Linked DNA regions of Homo sapiens: all the other regions are linked to region 3. Evidence: fine-mapped expression QTL. A gene starts in region 3. Each other region holds a variant in brackets. All regions are shown on one strand. Distances are from middle to middle.

The links. PIP is the estimated chance that this variant, and not a neighbour inherited with it, causes the effect. A credible set is the group of variants that fine-mapping cannot tell apart.
Region 1: its variant is the best candidate, but not a certain one, in a credible set for the expression of VBP1 in whole blood (TOPMed, PIP 0.80).
Region 2: its variant is the best candidate, but not a certain one, in a credible set for the expression of VBP1 in whole blood (GTEx, PIP 0.53).

Annotation. Positions count from the first base shown.
Region 1 is chrX:155,181,210-155,183,978 of GRCh38, reverse strand. No RefSeq gene overlaps it. Among named protein-coding and RNA genes, the nearest start is that of VBP1, 34 kb to the left of the region's middle. The variant T/C (reference allele first, on the strand shown) is at 1,099.
Region 2 is chrX:155,133,562-155,136,330 of GRCh38, reverse strand. No RefSeq gene overlaps it. Among named protein-coding and RNA genes, the nearest start is that of BRCC3, 63 kb to the right of the region's middle. The variant G/A (reference allele first, on the strand shown) is at 1,309.
Region 3 is chrX:155,215,217-155,217,985 of GRCh38, reverse strand. It overlaps VBP1 (VHL binding protein 1), which reads right to left and starts at 1,526. Exons shown (of 6, transcript NM_003372.7): 1 at 1,411-1,526. The coding sequence starts at 1,503. RefSeq lists a silencer at 1,143-1,232 and enhancers at 1,403-1,482, 1,480-1,774, 1,085-1,873.

The DNA.
Region 1 (2,769 bases), 34 kb after region 3:
TGCTCATGGATAGGAAGGATCAATATCATGAAAATGGCCATACTGCCCAAGGTAATTTATAGATTCAATGCCATCCCCATCAAGCTACCAATGACTTTCTCCACATAATTGGAAAAAACTACTTCAAAGTTCATATGGAACCAAAAAAGAGCCCGCATTGCCAAGTCAATCCTAAGCCAAAAGAACAAAGCTGGAGGCATCACGCTACCTGACTTCAAACTATACTACAAGGCTACAGTAACCAAAACAGCATGGTACTGGTACCAAAACAGAGAAATAGACCAATGGAACAGAACCGAGCCCTCAGAAGTAATACCACACATCTACAACCATCTGATCTTTGACAAACCTGACAAAAACAAGAAATGGGGAAATATTCCCTATTTAATAAATGGTGCTGGGAAAACTGGCTAGCCACATGGAGAAAGCTGAAACTGGATCCCTTCCTTACACCTTATACAAAAATCAATTCAAGATGGATTAAAGATTTAAATGTTAGACCTAAAACCATAAAAACCCTAGAAGAAAACCTAGGCAATACCATTCAGGACATAAGTATGGACAAGGACTTCATGTCTAAAATACCAAAAGCAATGGCAACAAAAGCCAAAATTGACAAATGGGATCTAATTAAACTAAAGAGCTTCTGCACGGCAAAAGAAATTACTATCAGAATGAACAGGCAACCTACGGAATGGGAGAAAATTTTTGTAATCTACCTATCTGACAAAGGGCTAATATCCAGAATCTACAAAGAGCTTAAACAAATTTACAAGAAAAAATCAAACAACCCCATCAAAAAGTGGACAAAGGATATGAACAGACACTTCTCAAAAGAAGACATTTATGCAGCCAACAGACACATGAAAAACTGCTCATCATCACTGGCCATCAGAGAAATGCAAATCAAAACCACAATGAGATACCATCTCACACCACTTACAATGGCGATCATTAAAAAGTCAGGAAACAACAGGTGCTGGAGAGGATGTGGAGAAATAGGAACACTTTTACACTGTTGGTGGGACTGTAAACTAGTTCAACCATTGTGGAAGACAGTGTGGCGATTCCTCAAGGATCTAGAACTAGAAATACCAT[T/C]TGACCCAGCCATCCCATTACTGGGTATATACCCAAAGGACTATAAATCATGCTGCTGTAAAGACACATGCACATGTATGTTTACTGCGGCATTATTCACAATAGCAAAGACTTGGAACCAACCCAAATGCCCATCAATGATAGACTGGATTCAGAAAATGTGGTACATATACACCATGGAATACTATGCTGCCATAAAAAAGGATGAGTTCATGTCCTTTGTAGGGACACAGATGAAGCTGGAAACCATCATTCTCAGCAAACTATTGCAAGGACAGAAAACCAAACACCACATGTTCTCGCTCATAGGTAGGAACTGAACAATGAGAACACTTGGACACAGGAAGGGGACCATCACACACCGGGGCCTGTCGTGGGGTGGGGGGAGCAGGGAGGGTTAGCATTAGGAGATACATCTAATGTAAATGATGAGTGAATGGGTGCAGCACACCAATATGGCACATACATACATATGTAACAAACCTGCATGTTGTGCACACGTACCCTAAAACTTAAAGTACAAAAAAAAAAGAATAATTTGGGCCCTTACCTCATACCAGGGACAAAAGTTAACTAAAAATTAATCAAAGACCTAACCTTAAGAACTAAAACTATAAAAATCTTCTAAGAAAAGAAAGGGGAAAACTTTGATGACACTGGATTTGGCAATGAATTCTTGGATTTGAGACCAAAAGTATAGGCAACAAAAGGAAAAATAGATAAATTGGAGTTTATCAAAATTAAAAACCTTTGTATAATCAAAGGACACTTTTAAGAGAGTCAAAAGGTAACTCATAAAATAAAAGAAAATATTTGCTAATTATATATCTGATATAGGGTTAATATCCAAAATATATAAAGAACTTCTGCAAGTCAACAACACCAAAGCAACCACATTAAAAAATGACCAAAGGATTTGAACAAAAGTTTCTTCAAAGAAGACATACAAATGGCAAGTAATCACATGAAAAGATGCTCATCATTAATCATTAGGGCAATTCAAATTAAAACCACAATGAGATACCACTTCACACCCATTAGTATGGCTATTGTTATGGACTGAATATTCCTGTCCACTCCCCCAAATTCATATGTTGAAATCCTAACGCCTAATGTGATTACCATCACATTAATAGTTGATGGTAATAGGTAATAGGTAATAGGTGATGGGGCCTTTGGGAGGTAATTAGGTTATGACAGTGGGACCCTCATGAGTGGAATATAAAGGACCACAGAGAGCACTCTTGCTCTCTTTCTGCCACGTGATGGGTACGGCAAGAAGTCTGGAAACCAAGAAGAGGACCTTCACCAGGCAATAAATCTACTAGTGCCTTAATATTGGATTTTCTAGCCTCTAGACCTGTGAGAAATAAATTTTTCTTGTTTAAGCCACCTAGTCTATGGCAACTTATTATACCAGCTCAAACTGACTAAGATAGCTGTCATCAAAATCACCCACTCCCAAAAAACACAGAATATAACAAGTATTGAGGATGTGGAGAAATTTGAACTTTCATATGTTGCTGGTGGAAATGTAAAATGGTACAGTTGCTGTAATAAATGGTATGGTGGCTCCTCAAAAAATTAAATATGAAATTACCAGATGATCCAGCAATTCCACCTCAGGATATAGAATCAAAAGAATTGAAAGATTCAAACAGGTATTTGTGC
Region 2 (2,769 bases), 82 kb after region 3:
TCTATTTTCTGTTTCTATTTCATGAACTTATGCTTTTTATTATTTCCTTTCTTCTACTTGCTTTGGGTTTATTTTGCTCTTTATTTTCTGGTTTCTTAAGGTAGAAGGCTAGGTTTCCGACTTGATGTATTGCTTCTTTTATAATATAGACATTTACTGCTAAATACTGCTTTTGTTGTCTAAACACCTTTTTCTGACTTTGGTCTTTTAAAATTTGAGATTTATTTTATGGCACAGAATATGGTCTATCAAGGTAAATGTTCTTTTTTTGTTTTTTGAGACGGAGTCTCGCTTTGTCGCCCTGGCTGGAGTGCAGTGGCGGGATCTCCGCTCACTGCAAGCTCCGCCTCCCGGGTTCACGCCATTCTCCTGCCTCAGCCTCCCCAGTAGCTGGGACTACAGGTGCCCGCCACCATGCCTCACTAATTTTCTGTATCTTTATTAGAGATAGGGTTACACTGTGTTAGCCAGGATGGTCTCGATCTCCTGACCTCGTGATCCGCCCGCCTCGGCCTCCCAAAGTGCTGGCATTACAGACGTGAGCCACCGCGCCCAGCCATAAATGTTCTTTGTAAACTTGAAAAGATGTATATTCTTCTATTATTGAGTGGAGTGTTCCAATTAAATGTGTATTACACTCAGTGATTTTGTTGTTGTTGTTTTGTTAGTGAGAGAGGGTTCTGCTCTGTCGCCCAGCCAGGCTGGAGTGCAATGGTGCAATCTCGGTTCACTGCAACCTCTGCCTCCTGGGCTCAAGCCATCCTCCCACCTCAGCCTCCTGAGTAGCTGGGACTACAGCCATGTGCCACCACACCCAGCTAATTTTTGTATGTTTTGTAGAGATGGGGGGTTTTGCCATGTTGTCCAGGCTAGTCTCAAACTCCTAAGCTCAAGTGATCTGCCCGCCTGGGCCTCCCAAAGTGCTGGCATTACAGGCGTGAGCCACCACGTCTGGCCACTTCTTGATGATCGTATCACAGTTCACCAAAGCTCTGTTCATTTCCATTTTTTAAGAGCCTTCCTCCTACCCTATGCTTCAGTTTGGAGATTTTCTTTTGTTATGCCTTCAAATTCACGGATCTTTTCTTCTGCAGAGTCTGATTTGCTGTTAATCCCATCTAGAACATGTTGCGTTTCTAATATTGCATGTTTCATCTCTAGAAGTTCCATTTGGTTCTTTTTATATTATTCAACATAATGAGAGTAATGAAAGATTTTAAAAGAATGAACATTCTCCTTTAAACCCTTGTGGATATTATAATAGTTATAATGGTTATTTTTAAATATTTGCTAATTCCATCATCTTGG[G/A]CATTTCTTGGCCTGTTCCTATTGACTTATTTTTGTCTCGTGTATGGGTCACATTTTTCTGCTTCTTCCTATACCTAGTAATTGCTGATTGGATGCCAGATACTGTTCATTTTGCTTTGTTGAGTGTTGTATGTTCATGTATTCCTTTAAGGAATGTTGAAGTTTGTTTAGACATGCACACACATTACTTTTAAATCACATCTTTCTAAGGCATATTTTCTTAAATGGCTTTATTGATATTTAATTCACATATATCTTCGTTATGAGAAAAGCCTGGCACTGTAACATTCCCTCAAACTGGGCCCCCCAAACTGGGAAGGAGCCAAGGTACCAAAGAAGTCCATCTTAGGAGTTTATTAGGACTTACATACAGGGCACTCCTGGGCAGCAGCAGGACAACTCCAGAGATCTGCCCTGCCTCCCATCTCTAAGCTGCTTTTAAGCTAATTTCCTGGCTCTTTGCCTACTGTGTGCAATGAGACTGTTTGCTGTAGTGGGTTCCCAGATCCATTCCAGGATGTTTGGGTTCTCAAGGACACCTGCTCCTAGGCTGGGCACCATGGCCTTGGCTCACCGCCAAGCCTTGAAGTTTCAAGCCGTGGACATACACTCTTAAGTAACATGGTGGGGGGCCCACCACACTACAACTTTTCCCTCATTTCGTGTAAAATTCAGTAGTTTTTAGTATATTCATAGAGTTGTGCAACTATCACCAAGATCAATCTACAGCCTTTCCACCACTTGCAAAAGAAACCCCGTACCCATTTGTTTTGACAACCCCCAGCTAAATTGGGTTTCCAGTACCAGAGCAGCTAGCAACCCTGCCCAAACTCTGCAGCTTTGAAGAGCTCATTTATTAGCTCTAATAGGTTTTGTGTGTGTGTGTGCATGCATTCTTTAGGGTTCTCCCTATATAATATCAAGCCATTTGCAAATAGATACAGTTTTACATCTCCTTTCCAATTTGGGTGTCTTCCCCTGCCCTCAACTGCCCTGGCTAGAATCTCTAGTACAATATTAAAGTGGCAGGAAACAGCATCCTTGTCTTGATTCTGATCTTATGCAGAAATAATTCAGTCTTTCACCATTAAGTATGATATTAGCTGTGGGTTATTCATATATGGCCTTTATCAGGTTGGGGAAGTTCCTTCCTCTTTGTAGTTTGTTGAGTCTTTTTCTCATGAAAACGTGTTGGCTTATGTCAAATGCTTATCCTGCACCTGTTGAGATGATCATGCAGTTTTAGTCCTTTACTCATTTAATCTGGTGTATTATATCGATTGATTCTTGTATGTTGAACTGTCCATGCACTCTTAGGAAAATTGTCACATGGTAATGGGGCCTCATTCTTTTTATATGTTGCTGGATTAGGTTTCCTAGGATTTTGTTGAGGAATTTTACATCTATATTCATAAAGAATTATTGGTGTCTAGTTTTCTTTCCATATGATGTCTTTGTCTG
Region 3 (2,769 bases):
TTATACTATGTGTGAGGCACTATGCTATGACCAGGAGAAGTAGGGCGATTCATGAGAACTACCTCACCTCCTCCCAGTAGCAGAGCATGAGGGGTAAGCTGCCAGTCTGGACCTCCACGGATTGTCCAAGTTCAAACCCTGGATACCTCACTTACATCCTGTGTGGCCTGGGGCAAGTTACTCAAGTGCCCCGTACCTCAGTTTTATCATCTAAAAAACGGGCATAACAGTAGTAGCTACCACCTCGAGTTTTGTAAAATCATTAAGAAAGTGCCTGGCACTCAACAAATTTTATTCCTTGTTATGGTTAGATAATAGATCAATGTAGAGAAATAAATGACACAGCTCATAAAAACACAAAATAATAACCAATTACGAAATTCAATCAGCAAATGCGAATATACAATATCAAGTGTGGTATAAATAAATGAGTCTTTAGAAGGATATAAGACGTAGTTAGTAAAAAAAAGGCAGAGGTAAGGTAAGGTACAAACCAAAAGATTGAGAAACTTCCATGAAGATTTTATAGTAGCTAAGTGGGGACAGACAGATGACCTGGCCTGGAGGGCCAGTCAGATGTTTTCTCTCATTAGTCAAATAGTTTTCAACTACTATTTCTAAATTAAATAAATAAAATAAAATTTTTAAAAAGCCACCCAGCACAGGCAGCGCCCTCCAGAACGGCCTGTGGAGCAACCCGATCCCCTCTAGGACACTAGCGAACCTGGGACCTAGCGCCATCAGGAGGGTTCAGCCTCCTCTCTCAACAATTCATTCTCCACTAAGTTGTTAGAATGATGTAGTTAAAACGAAAGGCCTTCTGATGACAGCCCGTTGCCTACTGGAAAACCTCAATTCCTTAGCAAGACACAGAAGGACTTTACACTCCCAACCTATCATCCTATTTTCCCATCGGTCTCTTCTTCCATTTCCCGAGGCAACATTCCCGAGACCACTGCATTCCTTCAACAGACAAAGTGATATTCCCGGTTTTCACATCTTAGCACTGGCTGTTCTGCCTATTCATTGTACTGTGTCTCCAGCATCCATGCTGAGTCGAGAGCTCCTCACCACCTCCCCTTTTCCAACCAGCAGGGGGACGAAAACCGGCGGCAGCCCGGAGGTCCCTCAGGCCGCCCTGCCCTGCCACCCGCCGCCCCTCGCCCCTCGCCCCTCGTCCCGGCCCCGCACCCCGTTCTCTTCTACGGCCTTCTCGAGCTACGTTTCTTCCGGGCGGGCCCCCAGCAGAGCTCAATCTGTCCAGGTGCGAGGGGTGAGAGCAGACCGAGCGCCCCCTCCCTGAACACTTGGCTCAGCTCCTTCCAACAGTCGAGGCCTGGGTGGGAGCCGGGAAGAAAGGGGCAGTCCAAGGCCTCAAGCCAAGATGCCAGGGAACAGCGTGCCTCTTACCACAAACACGGCCTCAGGAATCCCCAGGTGGAGCCGCCGCCCATTCCCTGTGGCCATTTCTCCTTTGCCACAACTGTCCTTAACGGCCGCCATCTTGGGGATGCGAGCGCGCGACTGCCTCCCGGGCCGCCGGCCGCCGGGATTCCGTGATTGGCTTGTTCGCACTTGCAGGCCCGCCTCTCCATCTCCATGCACATTCATTGGTGCGCAGGGAGCGTCCCCCACAAGTCCCCGTTCTCCTTTGGCCGAAAGTAGCCCAACCTCTAGGTGCTGATTGGCTGCGCTCAGGTAAGTGACAAGCGTGGAAGGGCCGCGAAAGAGAAGCTGGAGCGACAGGAAAAACCCATACGTCCTCCTGGGAAAAGGGGTCTTGTGAGTGAGCGGTGCTAAAGCCCTAGGAATAGGGACCTAGCCTGACCCCACCCCGACCCTAGAACTGGCAGCAGCCTTCGCAATGGCCTCTGGAGCGACCCAATCCCCTCTCTCGGATGCTAGCGAACCTGGGACCTAGCGCCATCACGAGGGTTCAGCCTCTGTGCCTTTCTGGTCTCACCATCCCAGGGAGCTTCCTGCCCCTTGAAGGGAACTTACTTTGTGTCTGTTTCAGAGTGGTCACTGGCCTCATTCTAATAAATACCCTGCCTGTCGCACCAGCCTTTCCTGAAAGCCACCTTTGATCAGAATGTCTTCTCTCCAGCTCAAACGTTTCCAAAACTTCATAGTCTACATACAAAATCCTAAGAACTCCACCTAGGCTTCTAGGCCCATGGACTTACCCAATGTCATCCTACACTACAACCCTTTAAAAGCACATGTGTCATACAGAACCAAGTAATTATTCTTCGGGCTCTTTTCTGTGCTTTATTTCACTGGAGTGTTTCCCAGTGAGGCAGTGCTTCATCCACTTGCACAAATTCTACCATGAGCCTAAGAATTACGCAATGGAAAGTAAGTCTCTCTTCTCAGAGGCAATCACTGTTACCGGTTTATCTCCGCACATAATGTACGATCAAGCATATAGACATAGATATGTCTTTAGATATAATATGAGGAAGAAATTGGTATCGTCATATTGTGAATGAGGAAACTAAAGCTCAGTGAACCTGTACAGCTCCTCCAAAATCCTACAACTACATAGTAGTGAAGCCGGAATTCCAAACTAGTTCTCCAGTGGCTTCTATGCGATTTGGCTTGGGAGGATGAAGACATGTTAGCTAACCATGACTCTGACCTTTTCTGGTCAGCAGTTTTGTAAGATAATGTCTCTGTTCCTGGAGAGAAAAGTATATGGGAATTCTATTCTTCACCACTCTCCCCCACCTCAGTGCCTTCCAAAAAAAAATTTTGTTTTTGAAAAGT